Linked DNA regions of Homo sapiens: region 1 is linked to region 2. The links come from fine-mapping of genetic effects on gene expression. A gene starts in region 2. The other region holds a variant in brackets. All regions are shown on one strand. Distances are from middle to middle.

Evidence for each region. PIP is the estimated chance that this variant, and not a neighbour inherited with it, causes the effect.
Region 1: its variant is fine-mapped to the expression of SECISBP2 in whole blood (TOPMed, PIP above 0.99). The same link has a PIP of 0.9 or more in gastroesophageal junction, testis and tibial nerve.

What each region holds. Positions count from the first base shown.
Region 1 is chr9:89,342,225-89,345,150 of GRCh38, reverse strand. All of the region lies in intron 10 of SECISBP2 (SECIS binding protein 2), which reads right to left. Among named protein-coding and RNA genes, the nearest start is that of SECISBP2, 25 kb to the right of the region's middle. The variant C/A (reference allele first, on the strand shown) is at 1,704.
Region 2 is chr9:89,317,350-89,320,275 of GRCh38, reverse strand. It overlaps SECISBP2 (SECIS binding protein 2), which reads right to left and starts at 1,776. Exons shown (of 17, transcript NM_024077.5): 1 at 1,664-1,776; 2 at 479-624. The coding sequence starts at 1,699. RefSeq lists a silencer at 1,417-1,736 and an enhancer at 1,907-2,126.

The DNA of each region.
Region 1 (2,926 bases), 25 kb before region 2:
GCTATGGGGCGGTCAACAAGAATTTTACATTCAGCAAAACTAACCTCCAAAAAGTGAATGCAAAATAAAGACATTCCAGACAAAGACCATGAGAATTTGTTGCTAGTATTGCTTGTGTCACTAATACCAAAGGAAGTCCTCCAGAAGAAATACTACCAGAAGTGATACAAGATGGCAACTGAATCCAGAGGAATAAAGAACACCTAAAATCATAAATATGAAACTGGTAAATACATATTTTTTCCTTGTTCCTTCTCTTCTTTAAAAGATATGGCTGTATAAAGTAGCAGTTCCAACACTGCAGTGTTTGGTTTATAATCTATTTAGATGTACCATATGACAATAGCATAAAGGGGGAGGAAGAAAATGGAGACCTACTGGAGTAAAGTTTCTTCAATATATAAACTAACATGTATATTGTAATCCCTACAGCAACTGCTAAGAAGGTAGTTTTTCAAACTAAAGTTAAAAAAAACAACAAAGAAATCAAAAGTGTACTCTAAAAACATTTAACACCAAAGGCAGTAAAGGAGGAAGCGAGGAACAAATGACGAAGTTGACAAACACAAGCAATGGGGAAAGGACTCCCTATTCAATAAATGGTGCTGGGATAACTGGCTAGCCATATGCAGAAAATTGAAACTGGACCCCTTCCTTACACCACATACAAAAATCAACTCAAGATGGATTAAAGACTTAAACGTAAAACCCAGAACTATAAAAACACTGAAAGACAACCCAGGCAATACCATTTTGGACACAGGAACTGACAAAGATTTCATGACAAAGACATCAAAAGCTGCAACAAAAGCAAAAATTGACAAATGGGATCTAATTAAACTAAAGAGCTTCTGCATTGCAAAACAAACCATCATCAGAGTGAACAGACAGCCTACAGAATGGGAGAAATTTCTGCAATCTATCCATCGGACAAAGGTCTAATAGCCAACATCTACAAGGATCTTAAACAAATTTGCAAGAAAAAAAACCCCATTAAAAAGTGGGCAAAGGACATGAACAGACACTTTTCAAGAGACATACACGTGGCCAACAAGCATACGAGAAAAACCTCAACATCACTTAATCATTAGAGAAATGCAAATCAAAACCACAATGAGATACCATCTCACATCAGTCAGAATGGCTACAACGAAGCTGGCGAGGTTGCGGAGAAAAAGAATCGCTTATACACTGTTGCTGGGAGTGTAAATTAGTTCAACCGCTGTGGAAAGCAGTGTGGTGATTCAGCAGACCTAAAAACAGAAATACCATTTGACCCAGCAATCCCATTACTGGGTATATACCCAAAGGAATATAAATCATTCTACTATAAAGACACATGCATGTGAATGTTCACCGCAGTACTATTCACAATAGCAGAGACATGAAATCAACCTAAATGCCCAGCAACAGTACACTGGATAAAGAAAATGTGGTACATATACACCATGGAATACTATGCAGTCATAAAAGAGAATGAGACCACGTCCTTTGTAGGAACGTGGATGGAGTTGGAGGCCATCCTTAGCAAACTAACGCAGGAACAGAAAACCAAATACCACATGTTCTCACTTATAATTGGGAGCTAAATGATGAGAACACATGGACACATGGAGGGAACAACAGACACTGGGGCCTACTTGAGGGTGGGAGGAAGGAGAATATCAGAAAAAATAACTATTGGTTACCAGGCTTAGTACCTG[C/A]GTGACAAAATAATCTGTACAACAAACCCCCATGACACAAGTTTACCTATATAACAAACCTGCATGTGTACCCCTGAATCTAAAATAAAAGTTTAAAAAAAAGAAGATCCACAGATTTAAAAAAAAAGTAGAGTTTTTTGAAATAATAAACTACTTCAAAAGGAAGAAACATATCTAAAAGCCTATGGTGGAAAATTTTCATGTTGCTTTTTATGACATATTGTGCGTTTTAACTGTCTTGGCTCTTAAGAGAAGATGTGTCAGAGGAAAGAGGCAGCCACATCAGCACTACTCAACACTGTTCCCAGTGGTGCCCCATGCACAGGCAGTAAACCATTTCCATGGAATGCAGCTTCCTCACCCAGACAGTAAAGATCTTCAGAAACTCAGGACACTTCTACAGATAAGGAGATTTTCAGCTACACAATGTCATCATATCAAGTGGAAAGCTCATCTTTTAATAAGATCAATTTTTAAAAATCATCCTATTTTAATAACTTAAAAATGTTTTAATTGTGGTAATATGACATAAAATGTACCATTTTAACTGTTTTTAAGTGCACAATTCAGCTGCATAAATTATATTCACAATGTTGTGTAACCATCACTACTATCCATTTTCAAGACTTTTTAATGCTCCAATGAATACTCTGTCCCCATTAATAATAACTCACTATTCCTTTTCCCCTCAGCCCCAGGTATCCTCTAATCTATGCTTTTATGAATTTGCCTATTCCAGATATTTCTTTTAGGTGGAATCACACAGTAGTTGTGTTTCTGTGTCTAGCTAATTTTATATGGTATAATGTTTTCAGGTTTCTTTCATGTTGTATCATGTATAAGAATTCATTCCTTTTTTAAGGTTGCATATTACATTGTGTAGGTATACCACATTTGTTTACACCATTATGTGGTAATGAACATTTGCGCTGTTTCTACCGTTTGGTTATTGTGAATAATGCCATAACAAACCCCAGTGTAAAAGTGTCTAAGTCTGTCTTCTTTTGGGTAAATGCTGAGGAGTGAAATCGCTGAGTCATGTAGTAACTGCATTGAGCATTGTTAAGTAGCCACCAGGTTGTCTTCCACAATGGCTGCACCATTTTACATTCCCACCGGCAGCGTACGGGGTTCCAATTTTTCCACATCTTCACTGACACCTGTTATTTTCTGTTTTTGGATTATAATCATCCCACTAGGTGGGAAATAGTATTTCACTGTAC
Region 2 (2,926 bases):
CAAAGGATTCTGCTGCCCCAGTCTCCCGAATACCTGGGATTACAGGTGTCCGCCACCATACCTGATTAATTTTTGTATTTTTGTGGAGACGGAGTTTCACCATGTTGGTCACACTGGTCTTGAACTCCTGACCTCAGGTGATCCACCCACCTCGGCCTCCCAAAGTGCTGGGATTACAGGCGTGAGCCACAGCGCCTGGCCTGAAACTGCATTTCTTATTAACAAATGCAATGCAGTCTCTACTATTTCTTTGCCGAAAATAACAATGAGTATGAAGAAAAAAAAGGGGAGTTAAAGCTTCTGTTTTTGGCACAGGATACAGTTAAGTTGTGCTACTGGCTCAGACTCTTCTTGGTTGAAGAGCATTCTCTCATCATCTGCAGAACTTTAGTGCAGTAACTGCTGAGTATTTGAAAGTCTAATCACCATTAAATCCAAAATGTAAGCCCCTAGGTAAGACTTTTAGAAAGATACATACTCTGTCACTGGTGGTTCCTGAACAAACGGATAGTATGTGGCTGCAGAGCTGGGGAAGACACATGCTTCTGAGGACTCTAACCATGCCACATTGAGCCCGGCAAATCTGGGGACAAATGGTTTGACATCTGCTGATAACTTGATGCCCTGAGGAAAAATATGAGGTTTTGGCCACAAACATTCAGAGATCAAGCAAATATAAACAAACAAAAAGACCCAAGAGGTGTTCCTAATAGCCCCAGAAATGTTCCCGATGTTGTTTAAAAACTTCTGCCTCGTAAAGACAAGAACCTGCTTGCTAACGATTTCTCCCCAATGCTTTTTTTTTTGTAGAAAAGGCAGTAGTTCAAACATTAAAAGTGAAAAATGACAACGAATTCAAGTGGAAATAAAACAACACAGATTATATAGTTTAGATCTTGGAATAAGGGTGTTTTTACCACAGATTCACTTAGAAATAATAGAACTGCACACAGTACAACTACTGCAGTCAAATACACGTGGACTGTTTAACTACAGCACCCAAAACACACTGCAGACGTTTATTTCCATTACATTTTCTTGAAAAAGTTGCACAAAAGCATATGCATTTTACTCATGAACCACTAAGTCTTGCTTTATTGAAATACCAAACCTTGCTTTGCTAGAAAATATTATCACCACGAGCCTTTGAAATTTCAATTCACTAAGATTTCTTTCTTTAGTTTTTAGTGACGTAGTAAGAGATTTACTTTCACCGAGAATTTTATGGGTCTAAAAATGATGCAAGCGATCGCCAGGGCTCCATCTAGTGGTAATGCTGAGTACGTAGAGCGGAGAATGACGTTCAGAAAAACGCAGGATCCTTTAAAACAATCTATCCGTTCCCAAGAGCGCGGGAAGCTCGCCAGAGTCCCCCCGCCCCGACTGCGGGGAGCGCCGGGCTGGGCCGCAGTCACTGCGCTGGGTGACATCGCACCACAGACGCGGCGCTAACTGTGGGCGGGGTCTGTAGCCGCTGACCGCCACCCCAAGGCGGACCCGAGGCGGGGCGCGAAGATCGCGGCCACCCGGTAGGGCGCTCCCGTGCCGTCACCAGCATCCGACCCACGCCCGCTGGACCAGCCCCGTCACCGCCCGGCCGAGCCCCCAGTGCGAGGCAGGCGGACGGACTGAGGCTGCCGAGAGAGCCCCCGTCGGCCCTTACCTCGCTTTCGGGCTCCCGCGGCCCCTCCGACGCCATGCCGCGAGGCGCGGAGGAGGCCGCGTCACGGAGGCCAGCAGCGGGCCGTCGGCTTGCCGGACAGACAAAGCGTTTCCGCCCCCGCAGGCGACGCCAGGAAGTGCGTCACAGCAAAGCGACAGAGCCCGCCCTTTCTTCCGGCCGGAAGTACGCGGCGGCGGCACTGGACCTGCGCGGGCAGCACGTGGAGGCAGTGGGGCGCTTGCGGAAAATGGGGACCCCCAGGAGTCCTCTGGGCTGGGGACCCACCGTAGCTTGCGGGAGTCTTGGATCTGCCTTTTAGTGCTGGGATATCGGAGATAGTCTCCACCAAGGCAGTAGCGACTATAAACAAGAGTTAGGCCGTGATTTACTTTTCTCCCCTGGGCCTCACGAGTCTAGCGTTAGGACGGGATGGGGTAGTCTGGAAAGGCCTCTCGCTGAGGTGACCTTTGAGCAGTCACCTGAAGAGAAAGATTTACTAATAAGGAAACTGAGGAGGCCGAGATTACTCTCACCCCCGCCACTGCATTTCCCTAAAATTTCCCCAAGATTGGTGACTTACAGGAATTGCATACCCTGTAGGTCCTACAAACCTGGAAAGCCTACAAGACTCTTGATGGTATCCTAAATTTCCAGAAACCTTAAGTTTGGAAGTAGCCACAGAAAATAATTTAAAAATCGCTCGGTTTCTTTCAAAAATTAAAAAAAGTGCTAAGATATGGTCAAGAGATGGAATAGTATAATTTTCACGAGAAAAAAAAAGTTCTACACAGAGCAAATTCGTTAAATATTGAGAGAAATGTATAAAGTGCGGCAGGGATAGGAGGTTGACCAAAAGTACAGGGAAGAATGCAGAGTGGATTTCAATAGATGGAGGAGGAACTTTCCTCTCACTCAAAGGCTTGGAGGAAAGTGCAAGTGGATTTAAGGAACAGAAAATGTCAGCAAAACAGGCTATTTGAGGAATGGGGATTAGGTTGAGGCAAATTGTAGGTTTCCTCTGTCCCTTGCACAGACGTTAACTCTACCATTGAATACGAAGTATTTCAAGCAAGTAAGGCAGGTGCAGCTCCAGTTTTTTCAGATTTCTGTCCTGGTGGGTCTCAGTTCACTACACAGCCTCTAGCAGAAGTGATCCTTAGGGTCTGGTCTGGCAGGAATTTATGCTGGAAGTTTAGGGGTAGCTGTCGCCTTCCTTTCAGCACTATTGGGTCTACCCGGAAGTGTAATGAAGTTTACTTGATT